Homo sapiens: one gene and its partners. The protein of the gene in region 3 purifies or fractionates together with the protein of the main gene of each other region. This does not show direct contact. Each region holds a gene or a part of one and is shown on either strand. Other genes may lie near its edges.

The links.
Region 1: the proteins of CRNKL1 (region 3) and PPIE purify together in Homo sapiens (affinity purification with mass spectrometry; 5 studies listed by BioGRID and IntAct, with this or other methods). This does not show direct contact.
Region 2: the proteins of CRNKL1 (region 3) and SNRNP70 fractionate together in Homo sapiens (co-fractionation; 2 studies listed by BioGRID). This does not show direct contact.
Region 4: the proteins of CRNKL1 (region 3) and DHX8 purify together in Homo sapiens (affinity purification with mass spectrometry; 5 studies listed by BioGRID and IntAct, with this or other methods). This does not show direct contact.

What each region holds. Positions count from the first base shown.
Region 1 is NC_000001.11:39,734,784-39,742,161, reverse strand, and holds the start of PPIE (peptidyl-prolyl cis-trans isomerase E), read right to left. Parts: upstream 3,281-7,378; 5' UTR 3,262-3,280; coding exon 3,231-3,261; exon of another isoform or gene 2,869-3,230; intron 1,998-2,868; coding exon 1,899-1,997; intron 797-1,898; coding exon 753-796; intron 268-752; coding exon 241-267; intron 235-240; exon of another isoform or gene 131-234; intron 1-130. UniProt on the Homo sapiens protein: Involved in pre-mRNA splicing as component of the spliceosome. Combines RNA-binding and PPIase activities.
Region 2 is NC_000019.10:49,102,451-49,109,442, reverse strand, and holds the end of SNRNP70 (U1 small nuclear ribonucleoprotein 70 kDa), read right to left. Parts: intron 6,017-6,992; exon of another isoform or gene 5,856-6,016; intron 4,810-5,855; coding exon 4,708-4,809; intron 1,819-4,707; coding exon 1,731-1,818; intron 1,649-1,730; coding exon 1,000-1,648; 3' UTR 839-999; downstream 1-838. UniProt on the Homo sapiens protein: Component of the spliceosomal U1 snRNP, which is essential for recognition of the pre-mRNA 5' splice-site and the subsequent assembly of the spliceosome. SNRNP70 binds to the loop I region of U1-snRNA.
Region 3 is NC_000020.11:20,042,301-20,049,638, forward strand, and holds part of CRNKL1 (crooked neck-like protein 1), read right to left. Parts: intron 7,132-7,338; coding exon 7,040-7,131; intron 6,202-7,039; coding exon 6,043-6,201; intron 5,632-6,042; coding exon 5,465-5,631; intron 5,463-5,464; exon of another isoform or gene 4,848-5,462; intron 3,227-4,847; exon of another isoform or gene 3,187-3,226; coding exon 3,008-3,186; intron 1,363-3,007; coding exon 1,192-1,362; intron 217-1,191; coding exon 25-216; intron 1-24. UniProt on the Homo sapiens protein: Involved in pre-mRNA splicing process. As a component of the minor spliceosome, involved in the splicing of U12-type introns in pre-mRNAs.
Region 4 is NC_000017.11:43,500,657-43,507,994, reverse strand, and holds part of DHX8 (ATP-dependent RNA helicase DHX8), read right to left. Parts: intron 3,352-7,338; coding exon 3,170-3,351; intron 993-3,169; coding exon 798-992; intron 493-797; coding exon 307-492; intron 187-306; coding exon 1-186.

The DNA of each region.
Region 1 (7,378 bases), on a different chromosome or scaffold from region 3:
AGCCAGTGAGAGACTGGTCAACAAGGATGATGAGGACTTACATTATTCTGAAATGGCGAAGGAGTCTGAGTAAGAACTAATTTTATAAGTGATCAATTCACAGTGAATATTTTCATGTGAGAATTTTTACCTCCCCATGCAACCTTGTAACTTTGGAAGTCCAGAACACTGATATATGAATAAGGAGCCTCTGTACCACCAAAAAGCAACTTTAGTTAGAATTAAGATTCCCAGCCATACCATGTTGTCGATAGCTGCTGCAGCATCCTGCCAAGGAAAGACAAAGGTACAAGTTTAGGCTTGCAGCCAAATGCTTCTTATGGTGTCTAAACACATGCTCAGTAGCAAAAATCCAGAAAAATGCCACCTCTGTATTTCTTGCCTAGGTTTTGTGTGTTTCTAACAAAGAGCACTTCCTGGCTGATTTTAGAGCTGGTGGTGCAACAATTTGCCATCTAGTTGAAGGCACAAGAAATAATCACTACTTCCAGGCAAGAATGCTCAATGAACAGGGGTGCATGAGCTAGCTCCTCTGCAGGGCAAGAATGGGAGGGCCTGGCAGGTCTGACATGTTATTCACAGTCCAGTCTGATTATGTGAGAGACGCTTTCCTTAGAACAGCACTTACTTCTGATCTCTCTGGAAGCATCAGCCTAAGGCCCAAAAACCTAACCAAATGGTGAAAAGCTTCCTTTGTAATCAGTAACAACATCACAAACCAAGGACTAGACACTAGTAACACAGACTCTCACCTCTGCCAACTCAAATTCAACAAAAGCAAATCCTCGGTGCTTTTCTACAAAATGGAAAAACAAAAACAAGTAATTACTATGTGGGGTAGTGGGAAGAAACAGGATGGTCACAAAGTGAAGTCAGTTACATGTCGTATCCAAACACCAGAAGTTCTATCCAATCACTATTTAGGAAGAAGGAATCTCATTCTTGATTCTTCTTATACAATATTTTAAGCAATAATAAACTTTGTTTTTTTAATGGACATAGCTGAATAGTAAACTGTATTTTTAATTGATAAGTATTCAATTATTCTACGAAAGCCAAACTTAAAACCTTAACCATTGCATGCAAAGCAATTAGAAAAATAAAGTCATTTGACCTATCAATTATCTATCTAAATATATATTTTGCGCATCAACTGTGCATAAAGCATGAATCCTAAAACCTGATAAAGATGCTCAGTCTTTATCTTCAGGAAAATGCTGAACTAACTAGAAAGACCAAGCACAATAATGTTTATCATAGAACTCAGAGACTAGAAGGCCCTTAGAAAGCCAACATAACCTTATCATTTTGCAAATAAAGATTTCCCAGGCCCAGAGAGTTTAAAGACTTTGCTAACAATCATATGCAAGGTTGATGATAAAACTAGGCCTAAAACTATAATCTTAAAAATGACAACAAAGGTAAACAGAAAACTGAACTGTGGTTGTGATACCAATCGATGGGAAACCCACCCAGGGGTGCAGAGGCCAAGAACCCCCGCCCTCACCCACCCCCATTATGGGGCTAGGCTTTCCCGCTGCCTCATTTAATAGCACAGCTGCAAGAAGGTGCAGGTGGGATGGGGTACCCATCAGGTAGATTAAAACAACATTCAAATCTCAATGTAGTTCAAACCTATCTCCCTACTGGTCTATTGAAAAATCTGTCTTATCTCAACCCAACAGCTGAAGACTCTGGAAAGTATTCAGAGTTCACAACCACATGGCCTCAGAACATTCCTTCTCCATCGAGATCACTGTCACCAGACACCTTCCTGAACTTACCTGTAGTGTATACTAACCATATTTAGAATGCATATTTAGAATTGTGATGTGACTTTAATTTTTTAAGGTATTTTCCTAGTAAGAGGATTCTGAACGTGAGAGACACTAACTCACCTGTTTCATAATCCAGAGGAATCTGAATATCTGTGATGTCTCCAAAAGGAATGAACGCAGCATGAAGAACTTTGTCGTCCACTTCCTCTGCCAGTCCACCTGCAAATAAGCCAAGGGCCTTCTGAGCCACTGATCTCCATACTCTTGCAGAAGTCCTTGCAGCCCAGTTAGCATGCTAGCCAGGGGACAGGACCCTTCCATTCAGTTCTTTGGGTAAACAAACATCCCCCTCTCATCTCTGCCCACCCATACTTATGAAAAATATTCCTCTCTTCGCCCTTCTTTCAGACTCTCATCTAGTCCTGGGATTACTGCAATAGCTTCACAACTGACCTCCCTGCCTCCATTCCATCAACTCCACAAAGCCAACTAGAATGATCTTAGGAAAATGCAAATTTGAACCCGTAACTTTTCGCTTACACTCCTTCAAAGGCTTCCCACTGTCCTCAGGATAAAGTGCAAACTCCTTAGCAGTACCCACCTCTCCAGCTTTTTTGCTTTGCTTCCTAATTTCCTGGGTCTCCCGAATAATGACCCACTTGCCCCCAAGTGTCAGGCTATTTCACACCTTTGCGACTCCCTTGCAGTGAACGGCCTTGCCTCTGCTTCGGTTACGTAGCTAACTCCTGCTCATCAGCTCTGGCATCGCCGCATCCAGAATTTGCCCTCGCTTCTCCAGATGGATGGGTCATTTGTCCCGCAGCCAGGCCCATATTATCATGATCCATCCTCACTACAGCGCTTATCAAAAGTGTGCTACTGAGGTAATTCCACTTTTTTTCTGGCTAGTCTGGGAACTCCTTCCTTTATGGCAGGGGCTGGGGCTGAGCCGTCGCTGCACTGAATGTTTGTAAAACAAATGAACGAGAGGATCCGAAGGGCCATAATACTCCTTTACCGCTCCTCGGGGCCCGCTGGAGCTCAGCGGGCTAGGAAGTCAGAATAATCATTCCGTCTCGGGTTCACGCACCTGAGGTGTGTGGCAAGGCTGTTCACTGCAAGGGAGTCGCAAAAGCAGAGGCCCAAAGGTGTGAAATAACCTGAACCTTGGGGGCAAGTGGGTCATTTTTCGGGAGACCCAGCGAATCGGGAAGCAAAGCAAAGAAGCTGGAGAAGTGCGTACTGCTAAGAAGTCTGCACTTTTTCCTGAGGACAGTGGGAAACCTTGGAAGGAGTTTAAGCACAGCCAGAGCTATCGCCAGCACTACCGCCAGAGACCCGGCCTTGACAGCAGCTCGCCGTCCTCCTGGTTCAGAGATGCGTCCCACCCCACGCCCCGACCCTTGGGGGTCGCGTTCACTCAGACTCCGCCTAGCAACCCCTCCTGCTCACCCACGTACAAGACGCGCTTGGTGGTGGCCATCTTGCTCGCGCGCTTTTCCGCCGGAAGCCAGCACTCGACCCGTCCTCTTCCCCACTGTCCCGCCCCGCCCCCAACGCTTAGCTCTTAGACCCCGCCCACCCTCGCGTTGGTCCAACCGGCATCCCGCTACCCGGATGCACTGGGCGCCTTGTGAGGTGCGCAGTGGTAAACCAAGGGACGTGGTCCTCGCGCTTCCCAGTGCGCACCGTGTTGGGGGAGGGAAACCTTGGCCGAATCAACCCGATTATTATGGGCAAACGATAAACTCTGGTGCTTGGCCATCCTGCGCGTCTGTTTTTGGACAACCTGGGAGCTAAGAATGAATTTTACCTTTTGAAATAGTTGGAAAAAATAAAAAAACTATATTTTCTTGGCCGGGCGTGGTGGCTCATGCCTGTAGCCCCAGCACTTTGGGAGGCTGAGGCGGGCGGATCACCTGAGGTCAGGAGTTCGAGAGCAGCCTGGCCAACATGGTGAAACCCCGTCTCTACTAAAAATGCAAAAATTAGCCAGGCGTGGTAGCGGGCGCCTGTAATCGCAGCTACTCAGGAGGCTGAGGCTGGAGAATCGCTTGAACCCAGGTAGCGGAGGTTGCAGTGAGCAGAGATCGCGCCGTTGCACTCCAGCCAGGGTGACGAGAGCGACACACCATCTCACAAAATATATATGTATATTTTCTTAGCACATGAAAATTATGTGAAATTAAAATTTCAGTGTCCGTAAAGAAAGCTTTATGGGGACACAGCCACGCTCATTCCTTTAAGTATGACTGTGGCTGCTTTCCTACTACAAGGGCAGAAGAGCTATAGCCTGCAAAGCCTACAATAATATTTACAATCTGGCTCTTCAGAAAGAACGTTTGTCTACTCGTGTTAGGTTTTGAAAAGAAGGCAAGGGTTAAAGAAAGACACACACACACACACACACACACACAGAAAGAGGGCGGCTCGACAGCAAACGCAGGCTTTATGTCCAGCATAATAACCTACAGAAGTGGGGAACCAGCCTAATGCCAGTGCCCACCACTGCTTACAGACTGGGCAATTTATAGGTATGGGCGGTAGGGGTCTGGGCAGTATGGGTTGCTGCCTAGCAGGATATTGATATAAAGATGTTCTCATGATGAGGCGGTTTGGCCCTTGTTCCAGTGGGATGTCATCATGGTGTCCCTTGGACCTTTGCCCAGGAAGATATGAGAGGGATGTTTCTTTAGTTGGGCCTTTGTCTGCCTTGTGGTCGGGTGGTTAGGCAGGATGTTTCTCACAGCCCAAACCCCTGTGAAATGTTTCACTTTGACCAAGGTCTGCAGAATAGCAGGGAGCTTACAAAATGGTGCAGTTTAGAGTAACATCTTGGACTAAACCCACTAATATATAAATTACAGGTTGACATAGTGGTAGGAAATAATGGGACCATCTATTTTATATGGAGCAGGGGGTTAAGACCTTCCTGAGGTGACATTTAAGCTGAATTCTGAAGGAAAAGGAGCCAGAGAGAGGAGGAGGCAGCTTCCGCACACTCAAGGAACTAAAAGACCAGAGCCTGGGATGGTGGGGTGGAGGGCATATCAGGTGGGAAAGGTAGGCAGAGGGCCACATCATGAGGGTGCTGTAAGCCTTCTGGAAGATTTGGGAGCTTTGAGAAGCTGCTGAAGTTACAACAGGAGAGTTACATGCTCACATCATTTTAGACAGTGCTCTGACACTAGGCCCAGGATGGGTTGATTGGAACCCAGGAGACCAGGAAGTTAATGTAGTAGACTAAGGAAGAGTTGATAGTGGCTCTGTTCCTCCAATCCACTTGTCCAGGGTGATTTTTTTTTTCTTTTTTTCTTTGAGACAGGGTCTTGCTCTCTTACCCAGGCTGGAAGGCAGTGACATGATCATGGTTCACTGCAGCCTCAACCTCCCAGCCTCAAATGATCCTCCCACCTTAGCCTCCCGAGTAGCAGCTGGGAGTACAGGTGCACGTCACCATGCCCAGCTAATTTTTTTTTTTTTTTTTTTTTTTTAGAGACAGGGTCTTGCCATGTTGCCCAGGCTGGTCTCAAACTCCTGGACTCAAGCGATCCTCCTGCCTCGGCCTCCCAAAGTGCTGGGATTACAAGTGTGAGCCACTACACCCGGCCTAGGGTTATCTTTCTTCAAAATAAACCTAAATTCTCTAGAACTCCCTACCTAAATCACTGATGCTGCTAACAAGGTCCTTGACAAGGGGTCCATGCCTACCTCAAGTCAACCCTGACCTCCACATCAGTTCCTCACCTACTTACCATGGGCTCTTTTTCCTTGCCTCTGCTTTTGCTCATTGAGTTCTTTCTTTTCTCCATCTGGAGGCACCCACCAGTCCTTGTCAGAGGTCCTAGTTAAGCTTCACTCACCCAAATCCCCTATAGACAGAGTCCATAGTCCCCAAGTTCAGAAGTCAATTGGAATACACCCTATAACTATAGTCAGGTATGTCTCTCTCTCCCAGTAGATGAAGGTATTTGACACCACGGCCTGTACCCATTGTATTCCCAGAGCTAAGCAGTGGCTGCGCACACAGCTGACCTTACCAACCTCATGCCAAACCAGGGAGTTGATACTTATAGGAATGAGGCTGTGAGATCTGATTAGGAGAGCTCTTTGTGTACCCGTCACTATTCCAAAACAAAAGGTCACTCTCAGGAAGAATCTGACCAGGCGTCCTTTATGTGGTGTGGTATAATAAAAAATAGATACTTGGTCTTTGTCCTAGTTCCTGGCACAGAGCTTCTAAAATCATTGGAATATCCTGAGTGCTGTGTCTTTTGTTATTCATAATGAGCCCATTTTGACCCTACCTAAGTTTGTGCTAAGCAGATGACTCAAGGTAGAACCCCTAGCTCGCTTCAGGATGGGGGTTGGTCATCAGAGAAACCAACCATGTGATTAGAGGGTTGGGACTTCCAGCTCCCGCCTCCAACCTCTGAGGAGAGGAGGGGGTTGGAAATTGGGTTCAATCACCAACACCCAGTGGTTTAATCAGCCATGCCTAGGTAATGAAACCTCATATAAACACTCTAAATGCGGTTTGGGGAGTTTCCAGGTTGGTGAATACATTGATGTGCTTGGAACACAGCATGCCTAGAGAGGGCATGGAAGCTCACCAGCCCCTCTCCATTCCCACCTTGCCCTGTGCATCTCTTCCTACAATCTTTACAGCCAAGTTTGAATGCATTGTTTGGATAAGGAGGAACAAATGTCTCCTGTGGGGAAGATAGTTCATAAAAAACCAAACGGAATCTCAGTAACCTTGGTGTCTGCGTCAGCACCAGCTTCTGGCCCTCTCTTCTTTCGTAGGCGCGTGGGTCACTCACTCAGCACCTGCTTCTGTTCTTGGGAAAGTGCTGCCGCCAGCATGGAGGCAGTCAGGGGTTCCTGGCCTGCACATGGACAGCAGGCTGGGGTGCCTGGGAACCAGGAGAAGCAGTGGGTTAGCACCCAAGGAAAGGACAGCACTCGATGGTGGTCAAAGTTAGGACACTCCAACCACTCGACACCTGAATGCTACCATTCAGAATCCAGGCGAAGGGGAGAAGTAATGGTTTTTGACCAAATTCAGCGCATTTTGAGGGGAGTGGTGGTGATATAAAACTGTATAGATTCTCCATCGCGCTCAGTGCCTCACGCCTGTAATTCCAGCACTTTGGAAGACGGAGGCGGGTGAATTTCTTGAGCTCAGGAGTGTGAGACCAGCCTGGCCAATATGGCAAAACCCTGCCTCTACTAAAAACACAAAAATTAGCCAGGTGTGGTGGTGTCTGTCTGTAGCTTCAGCTACTCAGGAGGCTGAGGCAGGAGAATCACTTTAACTCAGGAGGCGGAGGTTGCAGTGAGCCGAAATTGTACCACCGCACTCCAGTCTGGGTGGCAGAGTGAAATTCTGACTCAAAAAACTAACTATGAAGCTGAGTGTGGTGGCTCACACCTATAATCCAAGCAATTTGGGAGGCCGAGGTGGGCGGATTGCCTGGGGTCAGGAGTTCAAGACCAGCCTGGCCAACATGGTGAACCTCTGTCTCTACTAAAAACACGAAAATTAGCTGGACGTGGTGGTGTGCACGTGTAGTCCCAGCTACTCGGGAGGCTGGGGC
Region 2 (6,992 bases), on a different chromosome or scaffold from region 3:
AAAAGCAGACTGAAATCCTGCGTGTCAGTCACAGACCCTCTGAGTTATCAGGCCAAGTTTGCCTTCAGGCTGAGACGCTTCTACAAGACACAAGCAGGTCTGAACACAAGCAGGTTTGCCTAGGCACCCCCGGCCCAGCTCCCAGGCATCCTGAGTGCCAACAGGGAGGCCAACTGTTCTGTACCCCGCTCTCCCTCTGGCCTCCCACCCTTGCTCTCCTGGAGCTGCAGCCTTGGCCCTCTAGGGTTCTGCAAGGCTGACAGGCTTCCTTCCCTGCACTCACCAGACTGAAGTGTTCTCACCACCAATGTCTTTAATCTTTTGTCCAGGAATCTGCTTGAAATCTCAATTGCTGGTGGAACCTCTTCTGTGTTTCTGCTCGTTGCTCCTCTGTCACTACTTATTATGATGTGGGTCCACCCTTCCTGCTCTGCCCCGTCTCACCCGTGCCCAGTGTATTCTGCCTTTCCTCACCCTGTGTGCCGCTCTCCCTTGCAGATGGTAGCTTCCCTTGCATATTCAAAACTGCGGCTTCCCCTGAGTAATCAAGCCCCCTCCTAATTCCCAGCCCCCCACCAAGACAGGGGTATGGTCAGCCCTGAGGAATGTGTGGCAGAGATGAAAAAGAAAAAAGGGTGAAAAACACAAGGGAGACAAGGAGCCCGAGAGGCCGCCTCACCCCACTTTCAACAGCTCTGGCTACTGGGCAGAGCCAGCCTCATGTCCTAACGCTCAAGTTTTAAGTACACCCTGGAAACCAAACCAAGCAGGGCTATCAAGTCAGGAACAACCTTCTGGGGAAAACAGAGCAGTGAGGAAGAAACCGAGGTGCCCACTATCAACAGGAAATTAATTTTATTTTTAAATCCAAGGGGCCAGAACAAATGAGACACCTACCCTTGGAGGACAAACTCAAGTGGCCAAGGTTGGGGGAGGGGATGACAGCAAGGGGCTGGGCAGGAACGCGTCCAAACACAGCAGATGGAGAGGACGACCTCTTCACTCCGGCGCAGCCTCCATCAAATACCCATTCTCCGGAGCCAGGTAGCCGTCGCCGCCCTCAGACTCCATGTACATGTCTCGGCTGTCGTTGCCCAGACCCTCCAGCCCGTTGTCCTGGCCACCGCCCCCACCTCGGGCCTCATCCCTGCCCCGCTCACTGCCCCGCTCCCCCCGTTTGTGCTCGCGGTCACGGTCACGGTCACGATCCCGGTCCCGGCGCCGCTCGCGCTCGCTCCGGTGGCTCCGCCGTCGCTCCCGGTCACGATCCCGGCCCTTTTCCTCTGGACCGTCAGGGCCGTCAGGCCCGAGCTCCCCTGGAGGCCCATCATCAGGGGGCGCGTCACCCGCCTCGGAGGGCTCCGCCATGTCGCCACCGCCGCCACGCAGCTCCTCCTTGCGCTCCCGCTCCCGCCGGGCCCGCTCCCGACTCCGGCTGCTTCGCCGCTTCCGGTCCCGGTCCTTGTCCTTGCTCCGCTCCCTGGAGCGCCTCCGCTCCTCCTTGTCGCGACTCCGTGAGCGCCTCCGCCGGTCCCGGGAGCGGGAGCGTCGCCGTTCTCGCTCCTTGTCTCGCTCCCGGCTCCGCTCTCTGCGCTCCCGCTCACGGTCCCGGTCCCGGTCCCTGTGCGGAAGCGGGGAGGGGCCGGGCCTGGATGAGGTGGGCAGACCTGTGTGGCTGGGCTCCCCCCGTGACCGCCCCCCACCCCAGGACACCGGTCGCCCAATCTTACCTCTCATCGTAGCGGGAGGTGTCATCGCGGCCTGAATGCCGGATGTTCACATCAGCCCCTCCTCTTCTGGTACCACCGAGGCCTCCTCCTGGGGCAGGGCAGACGGACAGAGGGTGAATCTGGGCAGGGACAGGGCCCGGAGGAGCAGAAATGAGCCGACTCCAAGAGCAAAGGGCAGGAAGGCAGCCCCTGGCTTAGTGTTCACAGGGCCGGGTCCCCCCGTGCAGTTCATCCCGCGCACTCCCATCACAAGACAGCCACGTCTTCTCTAATTAACTCACACAAAGCGTTCGCTAGGCAACAGCCGTTACTGGAACCCATGTCTGGCCCCAAAGCGCATCATCTTAACCATAGCGCACTTCACAGCCTCCTCAAAACCCTCCCTTCCAATCATCCTCGCCCTCACAGAAACCCGAAGCCAATGATCTTTCCACCCAAAAATGTGATCTGCTTAGAAGCCTTTGCTGGCGTCCCCCAGCCTAAGGTCCAAACTCCTCGTCAACTGGTGGTAGAGGCAGCAAGAGCGGGCCCTGCTAGCGTCTGAGCCGCGGCTCTTGGCTGCGTGTCCCAGGCCTTTCCCAGTGTCCCCACGCTCACCTTCCTGCCAGTGTCTGTGCATTCTCCTTGCCCTGGACTGGTCTCCCCTTCCTTCTCTGGTGAACTCACGCTCACCCTTAACGCTAGCCCGAACATCCTTTCTCGGGAAGTCTCTCCTCACAGTCCTATGTACTCACAGTTGCAGAAACGCTTCCTTCCCCTGGAGTTTCAGGTTTGCTACCTGAGTCGACCCCTACCTGCCTCTCCCACCAGACTGCAGGGCACCGGAACCGTGGGCATGCCCAGCTCTTGCTCACGGTACCAGCAGGTGGCGCTGCAGCTGGTATAGAAAGGTGGATGTGTGTGTGTCAAGTGAATAGATAGATGAACAGCCCCAAGGCACAGATGATAACCTCATGGTTCTGATGGGGAAACAATCTCAGATCAAGTCACTGGCCCACAGTGACTCAGCAAAGAAGGTGCAGAACTGGGCTGTCACTGCCGTCTGCTGCAAAACCTGCCTTCTCAAGCGCTCCTCTATCTCGCACTGCCTGGAAAAGCTTCCGTGAGGCAGGGCTGAGTTCTGTATAGAAAAGAGGCTGCAGGGAGACATTCTTATAGAAGCAGGCAGCGGACCAGGCACCTGCCATGTCACAGGCACAGGGCAGCTAGACTAGCCTTTCCTATATTCAGGTCATGACCCAGAAATGAGTCCCATCATCAATCTGATGGGTTGCAACCAACATCTTAAGAAACAAAACAGCAGAATACAACTATATACTTACTACATAGAAAAAACTGTTTCCTCAAACTTTAGGTTACAGTATTTCTGCGGGTGCACCGAGTCAAGATGTTATTGGCTAACACCAACAAAAAGTTTGAATGGCAATTGAACTAGAAGATTCTGAGATTCTGGAAAGACTGAGATTCTAGCATTTTCCCGCCCCAACAGGAAACAGCAGAGCTATAAGAACCCACTCCACCCCAGAGAGACCAGAGTAAGGTAAGAACATGCCTGGTAAGCTCCGAGGCTCAGCAGCTGAGAGCGTGGTCTCCCTAGCACAGGCGAGTCCAGAGCCAGGACACAGGGCTGGGAGGCAGGACAGGAGCCCCAAGTGGCTACTACTGCCTGGGTGTCTGCCCAGGGACCATCATCTTCTCTGACAACTGTCACTCAGCTTTGCAGGATTCAGTCCTCAATAAGCATGCCTGAGCAACAGGACCCCAGGCCCAACACTGAGTCAATCAAATGTGCCCACCCCGAAACAAGAGACTCATCCAGGACTGAGTGTAAAGCTGGGGCCTGTGGCCTGCTGCGCTGGGCCAGTGCAAAGAGGCATGGGACCGACCTAGCTGCATGGAGGCAAACGAGGCAGAAGCAAGCTGTGGGCTGTCACACATCACAGGTGGGTCGCCCCAGTTTTTTTGTTTTTTGTTTTTTTTTTTGAGACAGAGTCTTGCTCTGGCACCCAGGCTGGATGGAATGCAGTGACTCTATCTTGGCTCACTGCAACCTCTGCCTCCCAGGTTTAAGCAATTCTCTGCCTCAGCCTCCCGAGTAGATGGGATTACAGGCACCCGCCACCACGCCCAGTTAATTTTTGTATTTTTAGTAGAGATGCGGTTTCAACATCTTGGCCAGGCTGGTCTCGAACTCCTGACCTCATGATCCACCCGCCTCGGCCTCCCAAAGTGCTGGGATTACAGGCGAGCCACCACGCCTGGCCTGGTTGCCCCAGCTCTTAACAGCGTCAGCTACCAGGTTCTCAGGTCCACGGACATCACATACCTCCGAACTCCAAAGGATGCCCATGATTCTACATCAACAGGGCCCTTTATGTTTCAGGAAGCTCAAGTTTATTTCTGATACTTGCAGCCAAACTGACCTTGCCTGAGACAGCAAATGACAATGAGGAGACCGAATGCAGGAGGCTCAGAGGGCAGAGGCTGCCTCTGTGTTGCTCAACTAGAAGCCCGGCACACAGCTGGTGATCCAATAGGTACTTGCTGAATCAGTAAAAGAGTGAACAAGAGCAACAGCAAGCAGCAGAAGCAGATGAGCGAGTGACATTTACAACCCCAGCATGCGTCACTGCCAAGCTGGGCGCCCAGTACACTGAGCTCAGTGAACTCGGGGTTATTTCCACTAAGAGGAGTACAATGAGGCAGGAAAAGGGGACCCCCAGCTAGCAAGGGCGGACGCCAGCATGTGGGCTCAGGCCTCTCCAGGCTGGTGCCCCTGCTCCTCACAGTAACCCAGAACGAGGAGGCAGGCAGCTGTCAGAAATGTGATGGCCACAAGAGAGAGAAGCCGGAGATGAGGACGCGATGGGAGAGGTGGGCCGGCAGGAGACAGAGAAGCAGAAAGCAGCAGAGAAGGGAGAACAAGGCCACCAGGCCCAGGGCCCCCGAGAGCCCGTCGAAGGCAGGATGTGCTCACCTAGCCGCCGGGGCCTCCAGCCCTTCACGGTTCGGCCCCTCTCCACGTCCACAAGGACCCTCCTGCCATCAATCTTCTTGCCATCTGCGTGTTTGTAAGCGGCTGTAACAGATGTGGGGAGGGGGAGGGGAGAGGAGTCCCCAGAGGGTCCTCTAGTCAGGACAGGCCCAGCTCTACAGAATCCCCGCCCCGTGTCCCCATCATCACGCACACGCACACGCCCAACAGACAGCCAGGCAACTGACAGCCAGACCAACCCTCTCCCAAACCGGTGAAGGGCCTGCTCCATCTCAGCGTCTGCTTCCTCTCAGCGCCCCAACCACTCCTGGTCGGGGGAGACGTCCACCCTCACCCGCCACCCCCTAGGCTCCCCGGCCCTTCCTCTCCCACATGATGGAACAGCCCCCTCCCGCCAGGGCGGCCAAAATCGCTGCAAAGAAACTGAAGGTTAACTCCACGCTGGACTCTGCTGTGGGGGAGGGGGCTCCTCCACAACCCCAAGCATGCACCCTGAGACACCAAGCCGGGGCAGGAGGCCCAGCTGGGACGCTCCGCACCCCAGACCACACCGGTTTTTTCTGTTTTTGTTTTTTTTGGAGGGGGGTGAGTGTGGGGGGAACAGACATCAGAACAGAAAATGAACCAGAAGGGGGTGGGAGAAATCTTCAGGAAATGGCAGGGAGCAGAGAGGCGGGTTATACACTCCCAGGGGGCCTGGCGGGGCCCCTGCAGCAGGGGAGAGGGGCAGTGGAGGAAGCATGGGGAGCCGTGCGGTGCTACTGAAAATCCCTGCCTTACCTGAGACGACTGACTCTGCCTCCCCCCAGCCCTGCCCCATCTCGCCCTCCACACCCCCGGCTCAACACGTGCTGGGAGCGCACCCCAGCCTGAGCCTGCCAGGAAAGGGGAGTCGTAGAGGGGAGACGGGGGAGAGGCTCACTGCTGCTCTCGGGCAGCGCGTAGCAGAAGGCAAGCCTGAGGCCCTGGCCTGTGATCAACGTGGGGCTGTCATGAAGGCCAAAAAGTCCCCGTTCCCCCACCCAGCCCTGGCCTAGGGGGCTGTCCTCAACCAACCGTAATACCCTGCCCCGCCCCAGCCCGCTCCCCCCCAAATAACAACCAGAGGAAGAGAAAAAGGTGCCATTTACCGATGCCGGCCTTGCGGGTGTCCAAACCGAGCGGGATGGGGGGGGCTCGGCAACTCCTGGGGGCCTGGCGAGGAGGCGGGCTTCCCGGGGGGGGGACACGGGACCGCTTACCTGGAGCCCCCAAGCTTACCTGAGCACGCGCACAGACCCCACACCCACCACCACGGGGTCAGCTAAAGCTACAGGGAGGGGAAGTGGGGGGTTCTAGGGAGCCAGGAGAGGGAGAGGAACCACATCTCCTGTACCACCTGGAGACAGGCAGAGGACGTGGTAGACCCCAAAGAAATCTCAAGGAGGCCTTAGAGTGGGGGAGACGAGGATTATCATCCAAGCTGGGCGCTGGAAAGCCCTGGACTATCTCGTGTGAATTTACAAAGAAGGCTAGGGAGGCCTCAGAAACCTGTCCGCCCTCACCAATCCCCGAGTCACACTGAACTAGGCACACAGCCCACCCCCTCCGAGGACCAGGAGTGACTTCTCCACCTCCAAATCCATGCTCCCTCCCACCAGCTGCGTCTGCAGAGGCTGGCACACAGGGGTCCAGGAGACGGTGCTGCCCGTGCTCTGAGGAGGGGCCGCTTGGCCCCTGAACCCACGGGAGGGGAGTGGGGAAAGGCATTTAAGGACCAGGATCAAAGTCAAGCGAAGGAACCCCGCTCGGGTTCAGAGTCCCAAACCCCAAAACAGGCCCATCCCGGGAGGAACAGCAAAGAAAACATGTGATTGTGTTCGTCTAGGCCTCTCTCTCTCTTTCCCTCTCTCAAGTCTCTAGACAGTGGAAGGTTCTTTAGTAAAAACCTACGACACCTTCAGCTGCTAGCAGCCTACCCCTTGGTCCCTCCCACACCCCAAGCCCCAATTCCATGCACTTTAGGGAGCTCCTGACCACCTCTGGAGAGCTGCTGGACACCACAGCCAGCCCCCTCGGGAGGCCTCAACCACAGTAAGGAAGACAGAAAGGGGGCAGAGCACCCCAAAACTAGCAGCCAAAAAGACTCTCCAGGGCCAGCACAGTAGCAGCCCCATAGAAAGCACGGGGGCAGGGAGGGAAGGCTGAAGGGCTCCAGTGGAGCCCTGGCCTGGAGCCCTGCCCTCGGTGTTCCTGCCACCTCGCCGCTGACATCACGAAGCCGGGTC
Region 3 (7,338 bases):
TGACACATAATTCTGTTTTTTCACCTTTGCCTCCAATTCTTCATAGAGTGCATAGTTGATCCAAAGATAAATGTAGCGCTTCCAGTGCCTCTTCTCCTGAATGGGTGGGACATTGGCAATGGCCCTTTCATAGACTTCTCTCACGGCTTCAGCTTCTGCGTCACTTTCTACCAAGCGCAAGTAATCAAACCATGCATCATAATTGTGTGGATTCGCCTAGAAAGACAACCAGTTTAATAAATAAAAAACAAAACCAAGAGCTGCACTTGCCAGGTTAAGCAAGCTGAAAAAAGGCATCAGGCTGACTTTCTATATTTTAGCACCTTTTCTTCTAAATGTTACATGTTCTTTCATTTTAAAAACACCATCCCTGAGACTGCATAAATAGAAAAGAAACAGGAATACAGAGGATAGATTACTGGCCAGGTGTCCCACAGCAAGGACTCCTTCATCTATAGCCATCACTCTCACGACAGTCAATAATTAGATGCCTATTCTTGCCAATGCATTTGCTTAAATATGTGACTATGTATCATTATGTCTGTAACAACAGAATCGTATCATGCTCACAATTGTTAAACTTGCCTTTCCAATTAATAGCAATTCATCTTTAACATATCTTGCTAACCTACCACCACATTTAATAACAGACTTAGTCCTTTGCTTGGAGGTATCTTAATTAACTTGACTAAGGAAGAGTATTTTTAAATACACAACAGAATACTGAAGGAAAATGACACTCTCTTTGAATTGAAATCAAAATAGTACATTACAGAAAAAGAGATGCCGATGGAACCCTGTCTAGCATACATCTTTTGTTCAGGCAGTTAAGCTCAAAGGTGATGTGCAAAACAGGTTTTTGGACCAATCTCTGACTCTTCCACCTTCTTCCAACAATGAGCTCGAATGGATTCCACATTTCTTTTGCTCCAGTTCTACATACAGTCAACAATCAACAAAACGACTTACAACATGTAAGTGGCAGAGCAAATCCAAGTGTTGTTTGCTTGCCTTTTCTATCAGCCTTGTTTATTCCTACTTGTCTGAAATAGCTGCCAATTGGATCACGGGCACATCATCACGAGAGTAATCACTAGTAGTGCTACTTGCTATTATTCATTTTAGTGTTGCTAGTATTGATGAGCACATCTTGGGTTATCTGCAGAGTTGACCATCCACACCAGTGCTCACCTTCACTTCTTCTTCGTACTGGAATCTCCGTTTGCTCACAATGATATCTTCAATACCCCGCCTATCACCAAACTTCTTCTCAAAGATGGTATAATTTTTAAAGAGTTCTTGGGCATCTTGTTTTGAAATTCTGTCCAGGGCATACTTGTAAATCACTCGTACCCTTTCAAACTAAATGCAGACAGGATGATTACCTTCTATAACACAATATTCTCATGCCAGTCACAACTAGGAGAGTAAATATAACAAAATATTACTTATAAGTTAGATTTTGAGGCCTCATAATATCCAGAGTAAGATGCTTTTCTCCCTCTTGTTGAAGGTTATCTCTGTCAGGATGGACCGGTACTCTGCTTTGAGCTCCATATTTAATACTGTCTACCTAACACTGCCAACTGGATGTCTACTGCACATCTCAAACAGGTCCAAAACTGAGCTTCTGTTTCCTCCCCACTCAAACTGGGACTCTCCCCATCTTCCCAATTTTAGTAGGCAAGGCCTAACCTACAGTCACTTGCTCAAGCCAAAACCTTCAGGTGATCCTCAATTCCTCTTTTTTCCTCATACTCCATATTCACTCTTGCAACATGCCCTACCATTTCAATCTCTTCCACACAGCCATTTGCTTCTCCCCAGCCCCCAGCCATCAAACTCCACTGTTCACCTGGCCCACTTCAAAAGTCTCCCCACTGGTCTCCCCTGGTTCCACTTTTGCCATCTACCCTCATACATTCTCCATGAATTAGCCAGAGGCTCTCCTTAAAATATAAATCATATCCAATCACTGTCCCGCTTAAAACCTTTCAATGCTTCCCACTGGCCCGAACAGAATCTGAACTCCCTAGCATGGTCCGTGCAAGACCTTATATAGGTTGAGTATCTCTTGTCTGAAGCATTTGGTATCAGAAGTGTTTTGGATTTGGGATGTTTCCCCAGTTTGGGAATATTTGCATTATACTTACTGGTTCAGCATCCCTAATCCAAAAACCCGAAGTCTGAAATGTTCCAATGAACATTTCCTTCGAGTGTCATGTCAGCACTCAACAAGTTTCACATTTTGAGTTTTGGATTTTCAGACTGGGAATGCTCAAACCTGTATTTGGATGGATCTCAATTCTGTATTATTTGAACTCCCTTTTTTTTTAAGAAATGGGGTCCTGCTCTGTCACCCAGGCTAGAGTGCAATGGCACGAACATAGCTCATTGTAGTCTCAAACTCCTAGGCTCAAGTGATACTCCTGCCTCAGCTTCCCAAGTAGCTGGGACTGTAGGTGTGCACCACTATGCCCACTCAATTTTTTTTTTTAGAGACAGGGTCTCACTATGTTGCCCAGGCTGGTCTCAAACTCCTGGCCTCAAGTGATCCTTCTGCCTCATCTTCTCAATATTTGAGCTATTTTCATAGGTACAAGGGAAAAAAAGAACTCTCTTATTTGTAGGGCAATCTCTGTTTCCATTCTAAATGTTTTCTGTTCTAGGGCTTTAAGCTTTTTGTTTCCCATATTTATTATCGGTTAAGTCCTTTACTTAGGATGCCAAAAGACTAGTTCTCAGTTTACGGGCATTCAGACTAAAAGGCTTAATTTTCAAACAAAGCACAATAAAATTAAGACAGTTATAATACAATCTATAATCAGCTCCCATCTGTAGCTTAGTCACATATATATGCTGTTCTCTGTGAGAAGCTGTGTTTTTGTATTTTGAAAACATCTTTCCAGGGATATGTCAGTAAGAAAAAATGGAAATGAACTCACCATGCACAAAATGTAATCTTTGCTAAGCTGTTTTACAGTATAATGAAGTTAGGTATACTTACCTCTTTCTGATTTTCTTCAAACTTGGCAAAGGCAACATAAAGGTGCTCATCCATATGTTCATCTCCAAAGAATTCCACAGCTCTCTCATACACTTTCCGTGCATGGGCAAAATAAGCATGTTTTTCTTCAAAGCGGGCATACTTGATCCAGTTCTTAACATCAGGGTGCACGAGGACAAGTGCAAGGGAATTAAGGAAATCCCAGGCAAAACAGCATGGCTTAAAAAAATAGTAAGTAAGTAAACACCAAAACCATACCAAAGCCTGGAAACTCCAAAAATTCAAACTACAACTCTAGGGGAACAAAACACATACAAAAGTGTAGAATTAAACAGTGGCTTCTGTGAGAGCAGGGCCACGCCTGTTCATCTCTATTTTCCTCCAGTGCTTAGTTAAGATTTTAGTGGTGGGTATAAACTCGAGTTGGAAGCAAAGAAAAATCTCAACCCAGGTTACCAACCATGTGATCTTGGATAAGTCACTGAACTTAGACGTCTAAGTCTCAGCTGTTTCATTTGTAAACAGGGAAAAATAATGCCAGCCTCACTGGATTACTGCCAGCTTTAAATGAGAAAATGTATGTAAAGCCCTTAGCACAGTTTCTAGCCAAAAGAACATGGCACCGTAAGCGGTCAATAATGGTCTGGTCATTAAATAGCACCAATTATATTAAAATATGAATACTTGAACTAATAATTAAGAAAAAAACATGCTATAAAAAGAAAACTGTTAACTAGAGTCAAAGCAGAAAGTTTTGAATTGTCATTTTAATCTATCTTCCTTGAATAAATCATTAATTTCCAAAGTAGTAATATATTCCAATATGGCAAAGAAGAGCATCAGTTCTGAAGCTGCTCTACTAGGTTCACATTCTATTTCCATCAGCACCTGTGAGAACCCAGTCAAGCTACTTAATCTCTCATGCCTCAGCTCCCTCATCTGTAGGACAGAGAAGTTCCTACACTGCAAGGATGTTATGAGGATTAAACAACAATATCTGTAAAGTACTTAGAATACTGCCTGGCACGTAGCAAGTGCTATAAAAGCTTTCGTCAAACTAATAATATTAAAATTAGTAGACATAATTAAGATCTTAACATTGTCACCTCAACAGAGAAGAGTAAAAAAATAAAAAGATCTTAATACTGCATAATAAAGTTGACTCTCATTATTTCTGGTAGTTATGTTCTATTTAGTCAATGCGAACACTTAATTATTGAGTACTGAACCACTGCTCCTAGGAGAAACGTGTATATATACAATCTCACATTCATCATCATCTTAAATCCTAAAAAGAACTCATCCTGGCAGATTCTATCTTCATTATTTTGTAAGAAAAGTGGTTCAGAAATGTTAAGTGACTGGACTGAGGCTGCCCCACTGACAGGGATTCAAACTCCCCGACTGGCCCCAGAGCCACAGCTCCTTGCACTACATGGCACTGGCCCTTCCTGTCTCCAAGCTCTAGGCATGGTTATATGAGGTTAAGACCAGAAGGCAAGCCTCACCTTGTTGGACTTCATGCTCTGTGCATGTCCACAAATGACTGTGAAAGTGCCACAATTACTGATTTTGGGGGTTACAAATAAATTTTAGCAAATACGTGATTTTGCAAACATGGAATCTGCAAATAGTGAGGAATGACTGTACTTCAGTTTCTAAAAGTGCTTTCATGTGTATCATTTAATCTTCGCAACAGCCCAACAAAGGTGTTTTTATTCTTGTTTTTAAGAAGAGGACACCAACTCTCAAAGGAGTTAAATGACTCTCTGGAGCCACACAGCTAGTAAACAGTAAACCTTGGATGAACTCCAGTAAGGTAGTAATGACCAACACAAACCTTAGAAAAACAGGACTGGCAATGGCAGCCAGGACCTTAGTACAGTTAGTCCTCCAGCCATGGGTTCCATATCTGTGGATTCAACCAACCTGAGATAAAGTATTCGTGAGAAAAAAGTGCTTCTGTATTGAACATGTCGTTTTTTTGCTTATTATTCCTTAAAATATACAGAATAACAATTATTTATATAACATTTACATTGCATTAGGTATAAGTAATCTAGAGATTATTTGAATTATATGGGAGGCTATGCATAGGTTACATGCAAATACTACATCATTTTATATGAGGGACTTAAGCATCACCGATTTTGGTATCCCCTTGAGTTCCTGGAAACAATCCCCCAGGAATATCATTTTCCACAAGGAAACATTAGCTTTTAGCATTACAATAAAATAAACCCAAACTCTCACTAGAAAAGACTAGTTACCCAGAATACAAATTTTCATTCTGACCAATCTCTTTCCCTACAAAACATAGGGAAGCTGATAAACTGGCATTCTTGACTTTGAGCCTGACATTAATGACTGTGTGTCCTGATCATGAGACATCTCTACAGGAGCAGCAGCAGCATCCAGGACAATCATGGCACCATACAGATCTCGTCCAAAGGATATATCGCTCATAAATGGTGCGGGCCCGATCCACCTCTTTGTATCTCAGCTCAAAGTTGATGTAGGAGTGCCAGGCTTGCTCCTCAGGCTGCCACTCCATCCAGCGCTCAAACACCTGCCGGGCACCGGCAACGTTTCCCAACATTTCCTCCATGTACGTGTACTTGTACCTGTAACAAAATCACCCGAAAATATCTGCTGTGGTTTAGTTCTTCCATTGTTGAATGGGAAGAAGATTGAAGATTTTACCTTTCTTAAAGGTTAAATCAAACATGTTTTGTCATTTGTATGTAAATCTGAAAAAGGATGAACCATTGGAAAAAAAGATTTTTTTTTCTTAAAAGTTGCCTAGTTCAACAAGAAGCTTATGAATAAAAGATTGCAATCAAAATTTTAGTTTTGATTACATAGCTATAGAACATTACGATTATGACTTAATAGACTATGGGACATAACAGCATTTATGTCTGAAGAAAAAGTAGGATATCAAATTAAACTATCATCATGTAAATAAAATAAATACAGAAGATGTGGAACTTTGCTAGTCTATAAAAGGCTGTTTTGTTAGATCAGAAACTTACCAGAACTGATTAACTCGAGGCAGCGTTGTTATGGCCCGGTCCCAGATATTTCGAGCATGGTTGACTTGGCGATTCTTCATTTCCATTTCTGCGTATTTCAGCCAGAGTGTAATATTTCGGTAGTCTACATCTAAAGCACGCTCGTATATGGATCGAGCCCTTAAGAAGCAAGATTTGCAGGGCATCAAAAATAGAGCATTCAACACATGTAGCAGTTATTTCAAACTATCTGGAATGCACTGATGTTTTATTAGGTGTCTACCATGAGCCAAGTTCTGGGCATAAAAAAATGAAAAGATATAATGCTCTCAAGTACCTTACAAAGTCTTATAAAAAGACATGCATGCAATTATAATGCAATGTGATTTATGTTATAGTCAAGATCTGCACGGGAAACAGAGAGGAAGAAATGAAAATGTTTGGTGGAAAAGGCTAAGTAGTAGGTAATTGTAGAAATGAGAACTTGAGGAACGTTCCGATTTACCAGGAAACTAAGTTTGGTGAGGAGGGGGTGCTCATTCCAGGCAAGGAGAACAGTCAAGCCTCACGATAAGGAGACATGATATATTCAGGGAGTGGCACATACACAGGCACAGTGGGGGAAGGAGGTATGCGGGGAGAATGCAGAAAGCTAGACCACAGGAAGGGCCAGATTGCAATTTTTATTTTTTTTGGCCATTGGTTTTATTTTTTTTGGCCATTGTTTAGCTGAAATTTGTAAAAATCTCAATATATACAAAGCAAATGAAATTGTGCTTCTTTAGCTACAACTGACAAGATCTATCTCTAAAGCCTCTTCTGCCACCCTCCCCAGGACTATTCTACCCCAGTACTCCTGAGGCCCTCAAGGGAACCCTAGGGTTCCATGGAACCAAAGTTGAAAATTTCTACCCGAGGCACAATCTTTTACCTGTGCTTTAACTTTTTCTTCTTTTCTTTTTGGTATCTGTTAATCTATGAATCATTATATACAAAACTACACTCTCAGTAATTTTACCTTTGAATCTCCTTTAGGCTTTCTTCCCATTGTGCGTATTTTATCCAGTTACTAATCACAGTCCTGTTTTTTCTTATATTATCTTCAAAAGTCTGGAAGAAGGCAAAAAGGGTCAAGTCAAAAGACAAATGACTAAAAATGACAGCACCCTTGGTCTATTTTAAGTCTTGTACTAAAATGGTTATTCATTTTGTTCATATTTAAGAGAAATTACATCCTGGAATCCTTGAGGAATAAGAAACCCACTACAGAAGGTTACAGTCAACTAACTGATACTTTAAAATGGTCTATGCTTGTCC
Region 4 (7,338 bases), on a different chromosome or scaffold from region 3:
CATAACAGTAATCAGGCTGGCATCCAGATAATCTGTCTCAGGTTCCTTTGTGTACAGTATTTCCACTGGATATGTTCGACCTGGGATGGTGAAAATGGGAGCTTCATAGAAGTATTGAGAAAACTTCACTGCATCCAAGGTGGCTGAGGTGACAATCAGCTTCATGTCCTGCCGTTTCTGAACTGTCTGAAGAGAAATATTATGTGGCTTACTGAAAAGGACTACCCAAAGACACAGGTACTCAAATCCAACTGCCAGAATTCAGCTTCCAACAGGTAGAGGGGTCATTAAAGAGCATCTAGTTACCTTTTTCAACAATCCAAAGAGCACATCAGTGTGAATTGTCCTCTCATGTGCCTCGTCCAACATGATGATCGCGTACTGAGTGAGGTCAGGGTCAATCAAGCACTCTCTAAGCAACATCCCATCTGTCATGTACTTGATGACTGTTTCAGGGCTAGTGCAGTCCTCAAATCGAATGGTGTAGCCCACCTAAAGCAGAAGAGAAGGGGAAAACCTAGGATACAAATGTCTCCTTTTCCCAATCACCAGGCAAGATTTCAGCCCAGTCACTCTCACTCATAATCTTAAGAATCTGATCAAGATGTACAGTAATTTCCTCATAGTAAGGTATGTCTTAGACTATACTCTGAACAGACTGATTATGACAATGGGAACCCTCTCTCCCTCAGGAGAAACCTGAAAAAAGGCAGTATTATTAATATTTCCATTTGATAGATTAAGAGACCTGGGCCTTTGCTTCTGGTATTTTTCGAGCGACTCCACTATCTACTTACCTCTTGGCCTAAGCAACAACCAAACTCCTCTGACACTCTTTTGGCCACCGACATAGCTGCCACTCTTCTGGGCTGGGTACACCCAATCTTGCCCCTGGAAGTGTAGCCTGCCTCCGCCAGGTACTGGGTGATCTGTGTTGTCTTTCCAGATCCTGTCTCACCAATGACAATCAGGATCTGATTGTCATGGACGGCCTGAAAGCAACAGAATATAAATATGGTCATTAAAATCTGCCAGAATATAAATATGGTCATTAAACAGAATATAAATATGGTCATTAAAATCTACATTACTCTGGAATAAAATAATTACTATATTCTAACACCAAAGAAAAGAGGAATATACACATATAGTTAAAGAAGTCAACAATGAATTTAAAAGATACATAAAAAATGTTCCTTCCCACTGTAACTCCCAAATTTCTATATCTTTCCCCAAAAGTTATTTCTTATTTCTACGTTGTTTGTAACAGCCAAGGATTACAATCAACGATGTTTCTATGGATATAGGACTAGTTAAATAAACCAGAGCCTATCCAAATAATACAGCCCATAAAAAAAGGCTTTTTTTTTTTTTTTGAGATGAAGTCTCACTCTGTCGCCCATGCTGGAGTGCAGTGGCATGATCTCAGCTCATTGCAACCTCCACCTTCCGGATTCAAGTGATTCTCCTGCCTCAGCCTCCCAAGTAGCTGGGACTGCAAGTGCCCGCCAGCACGCCCGGCTAATTTTTGTACTTTTAGTAGAGACAGGGTTTCACCATGTTGGCCAGGCTGGTCTCGAACTCCTGACCTCAGGTGATCCGCCCGCCTTGGCCTCCCAAAGTATTGGGATTACAGGTGTGAGCCACTGTGCCTGGCCTGGCAATTTTTTTTGTTTGTTTGTTTAAGAAGGCCAGGCACAGTGGCTCATGCCTGTAATCCTAGCACTTTGGGAGGCCAAGGAGGGAGGATTGCTTGAGTCCAGGAGTTCAAGACCAGCCTGGACAATATAGTGAGACCGCATCTCTACAAAAAATACAAAAAACTAGCTGAGCATGATGGTGTATGCCTTGTAGTCCCATCTACTTGGGAGTCTGAGGTGGGAAGATCACTTGAGCCCAGGAGGTAGAGGTTGCAGTGAGCTGAGATCAAGCCACTGTACTCCAGCCTGCACAAAGCGAGACTCTGTCACACACACATACACACACACACACACAAATCTCTGAGATATATCATTAAGTGGAAAAAGATGTAGAACAGTGTATATAATATCACTGCCACCTGTAAACACACACAGTACTCATATAAAATGTGTGTGCGTGTGTGTGCATATATTTGTACTTGCTTGTATACATATAAGATATTGTTGAAAGGATTCACTAGAAACTAGTAAACCTGATTACCTCAAGGAAGACTCGGTGGTCTTAAAATCAGAACTCCAGAATATAGAGTACCGAAGCACTCTATGAGTTGCCCATATGAGTTTATTGACTGAGTATCCTCATTTTTAATTACTGAACAGAGCTGTTGGTCCATGCAACACAATACTCTGCCCACTTGGAAACTGTTCTAGGGGCCCCAGGAAAAAGAAGATATACAGACACATACATAAGTATGTGTGTCTGTACACGCACACACAAACATTTGTGATATGGGGTCTCACTTGGTCGCCCAGGCTGGAGTGCAGTGGTGTGATTGCAGTTCACTGTAGCCGCGACCTCTCAGGCTCAAGCAATCCTCTTATCTCAGCCTCCCGAGTAGCTGGGATTACAGGCATGGACCACCACACCCAGGTAATTTTTTTTTTTTTAGACAGAGTCTCTCTCTGTAGCCAGGCTGGAGTGCAGCGGCGTGATCTTGACTCACTGCAACCTCCGACTCCCTGATTCAAGCGATTCTCCTGCCTCAGACTCCAGAGTAGCTGGGATTATAGGCATGCGCCACCACGCCCAGCTAATTTTTTGTATTTTTAGTAGAGACAAGGTTTCACCGTGTTGGCCAGGATGGTCTCGAACTCCTGAACTTGTGATCCGCCCACCTTTGCCTCCCAAAGTGCCGGATTACAGGTGTGGGCCACCACGCCCCACCAAATTTTTTATTTTTTGTAGAGACAAGATTCCCTATGTTGCCTCAGGCTGGTTTCAAACTCCTAGGCTCAAGTGATCCTCCTGCCTTGGCCTCTGATGTGCTGGGATTATAGGCATCCACTACCGCGCCCAGCCCCATTTAAAAAAAAAGTATTTAGAAAGTTTTATCCTTCTTTCTTAACTCTTTTGGATGAGCCACTTCAAGTAGGCACATACTTGTCCCGTTAGTTTCAGTTTAAAAATATCACCCCTCTTTTAGACAATAACCCTACTCCCCACCAATACATCATAAAAGTCTTCTCACCTGGACCAATTGCTCCTTCAGTTTGTAGATGGGCAGGCTCTCCCTCTGCTCAAGGATTGACATCTGGGTCTTTTTTCCGTAAGAGGCTTTGTTGCCCCCAAAGGCATGCTTCTTCCACTCAGGAATATCATTGGGCATCATCCCAATACCCCTCATGTTGGCAGCAATCTGTCTGCCTTCCGCTGGAAAGGAAAACAGGCAACTTAGTATTGTCCTCAAGCTACCTCAAGATGTACCAGGAAAAAAATAAAATGGCATGCGGGCACTGCACATGCAGCATCTCAATTCAGCGACCCGTGATCAAAAGTACTCAAAGAAACAAATTAATGTGAAGAAAAGAATATAGAAGGGGCAGCAGGGAATGGGAAAGAGACTGTAACAAGTGGTGCTACACACCTGTGATGTCAGAAAAAAGGTTAGTTGAGAGAAGTGAAGACCTGACTGCTTGACACTGGAATTATTTTTTTTTAGGTAGGGTCTTGCTCTGTCATCCAAGTGGGAGTGCAGTGGTGCAATCCTGACTCACTGCAGCCCCGACCTTCTGGGCTCAAGCGAGAAGAGGTCACTCTATGTTGCCAGGCTGGTCTCGAACTCCTGGGCTAAAGCAATCCACCCATCTCACCCTCCCAAAGTAATGGAATTACAGGTATGGCCACCATGCGCAGCACTCTCCCCTTTTTAAATAACTGCTATATCGAGATGTAATTCACAAACCATGTTACACTTTTTTTATTTTATTTTATTTTTTTGAGACAGGGTCTTGCTCTGTTTCCCAGGCTGGAGTGCAGTGACGCAATCACGGCTCACTGCAGCCTCAAATTCCTGGGTTCAAGGAATCCTCTCTCCTTGGCCTCCCAAAGTGCTGGGATTACAGGTATGAGCCACCAAGCCAGGTCTCCGTGTTACTCTTTTTAAGTGTTTAACTCAGTGTTTTACTGTATATTCATTAAGTTGTGCAACTATCCCCACTATTTAGAGTATTTTCATCATATCAGAAAGAAACCCTGTACCCATTAGCAGTTACTCCCCATTCCTCCCTTTTCCTTTCCCTTGGCAACCATTAGTCTACTTTCTATGTCTACGGGTTCTATTCTGGATACTTCATACAATATGTGGTCTGTTGTGCCTGGTTTCTCTCAGATTAATTTTTTTCTTTTTCTGAGACAGGGTCTGGCTCAGACGCCCAGCAGGCTGGAGTGCAGTGGCGAGATCTCAGCTCAGCAACCTCCACCTCCTGGGCTCAAGCAATCCTCCCACGTTAGCCTCCTGAGTAGCTGGGAATACAGGTGCACGTGATTACACACGGCTAAACTTTTTTTTTTTTTTTTTAGATGGAGTTTCGCAATTGTTGTCCAGGCTGGAGTGCAATGGCGTGATCTCGGCTCACTGCAACCTCCGCCTCCCAGGTTCAAGTGATTCTCTTGCCTCAGCCTCCCTAGCAGCTGGGATTACAGGTGCGTGCCACCACATCTGTTAATTTTTCTGTTTTTAGCACAGATGGGGTTTCACTATGTTGGCTAGGCTGGTCTCAAACTCCTGACCTCAGGTGATCCACCCGCCTCAGCCTCCCAAACTGCTGGGATTACAGGCATGAGCCACCATGCCTGGACTAATTTTTGTATTTTTTTAGAGACAGGGTTTCACCACATTGCCCAGCTTGGTTTCAAATTCCCCAACTCAAGTGATCTGTCTGCCTCAGCCTCCCAAAGTGCTGGGATTACAGGTGTGAGCCACCTTGCCCAGACCTAGCTTATATTTTCAAGATTCACCTTGGAATTGTGGCTTGAGGAGCAAAAAAAAATGAGCAGAATTTTAGTGGCTCTCTAGCATATGCAAACATTTTACAAATTTGATGCCAAAAGCTGGCTACGAAAAAATACTTATGCCTACTAACCAAATAAGTGAGCTTAGGCAGAGGCCAAAGGAGGGTCATGGAGAACATTTCACTAAAGGGTAAAAGGGAATGAATGGGTTTATTCTGAGGAAATGGAAGATGATATTGTTAAACAATGAACGAATATGTCCAACCTTCTACTGTAAATCTAATATTTTGGTTTTTATTTTTGTCGTTTTTAAAAATTTAATTTTAAAATAGAGACAAGGGCTAGGCACGGTGGCTCACCAGTAATCCCAGCACTTTGGGAGGCCAAGGTGGGCAAGATCATTTGAGGTCAGAAGTTCGAGACCAGCCTGACCAACATGGTGAAACGCTGTCTCTACCAAAAATGCAAAATAATTACTCGTGCGTGGTGGCGGTCACCTGTAGTCCCAGCTACTTGAGGCTGAGGCAGGAGAATCGCTTGAACCCAGGAGGCAGAGGTTGCAGTGAGCCAAGACTGCACCACTGCACTCCAGCTGGGGCAACATAGTGAGACTCCATCTCAAAAACTAAACTAAACTAAACTAAAATAACAAAACAAAACAAAATAAAATAAAATACAGATAAGGTCTTACTATGTTGCCCAGACTGGTCTTGAACTCCTGGCCTCAAGCAATTCTCCTGCCTCGGCCTCCCAAAGTGTTGGGATTACAGGCGTGAGCCATCATGCCGAACCTAATCTAATATTTGAATCTCTATTACATGCAGCCAAACTGATATCTAAATTAACACAATTCCCAAACTTCTGTCTCCAGCCCAGACCTCTCTTCTGAGCTCTTATACTCAATTCTACACTGGATACCTCAACCTAAGATGTCCTCTAGTTGCCTCGGACACAAGTCCAAAACGGAATTTGACCATCTTTCCCCACAAACCCATTTCTCCTCCAGTGTTCCCATCATTCATCCTAGTGCTCATACCAGAAACCTGGAAGTCATCTTTGACCATTCCTGTTGCCCCACATTCAACAAATTACTTTTCTCAAGTACATCCCTCCTCTTTGCTACCTCCATGTTCAAGCCACCATTCTCTCTCTTCATAAAAGCTTTCTAAATCATCACATGTGCCCCATCCAACTCATTCTGCAGGGCACCCTCAATCATCCTTTGGAAATGCAACTCTGGTCATGCCATGTGCCAGCTGCAAACTTTCAACATCTGGCTGGGCACGGTGGCTCACACTTGTAATCCCGGCACTTTGGGAGGCTGAGATGGGGGGGGGATCACCTGAGGTCGCGAGTTCGAGACCAGCCTGACCAACATGGAGGAACCTCGTCTCTACTAAAAATACAAAAAATTAGCTAGGCGTGGTGGTGCATGCCTGTAATCCCAGCTACCTGGGAGTCTGAGGCAGGAGAATCACTTGAACCAGGGAGGTGGAGGTTGCAGTGAGTCAAGATCATGGTGTTGCACTCCAGCCTAGGCAACAAGAGCAAAACTCTGTCTCAGAAACAAAAACAACAACAACAAAAGAACTTTTCAACATCTCCCAGTGCTATTAGAATTGAGCCCAGCTTCCTAATGCCACCTACAAAGCCCTGGCCTGATGTTCTTATCTCATCCCCTACCACTGCCCACTGCTCTCTCTATTCCATCCACACAAGCCTTCTTTCAGTTCCTTCTTTCCCACCCCACAAACCCAACACGGGCTACTCCTCAGGCTGGAACATACTCCCCAACCTCCATCCCATCTCCACTTGACAGACTGAGTCCAATTTATCCTTTGGGTCTCGATTTCCCCAGGGAAGTGACCCACCACAGTCAATTACACTGCCTGTACTTCTTCACATGGCACTGATCATAATTTAATTATTTGGTGATTATTTAATTAATATCCATATCCCCGACTAAGTTGTAGCGCATAAAAGCAGGGATCATATCTGTTTAATTCAAATCGTATCCCCAGTTGCCAAACACAAATTAAATTAATAAGTATTTGTTATGACTATATCTAGTAGCTAATATTTACTGCACAAAGAATTATATGAAAAAGGAAGCTTCAAAGCTGTATTACCTTTAGAATAAAAATTTTTTTTTTGAGACGGAGTCTCACTCTGTAGCCAGGCTGGAGTGCAGTGGCGCGATCTTGGCTCACTGCAACCTCCGCCTCCAGGGTTCAAGCGATTCCCCTGCCTCAGTCTCTCGAGTAGCTGGGACTACAGGCGCGCACCACCACACCTGGCTATTTTTTGTATTTTTAGTAAAGACGGGGTTTCACCATGTTGGCCAGGATGGTCTCGATCTCCTGACCTTGTGATCCGCCCGCCTCAGCCTCCCAAAGTGCTGGGATT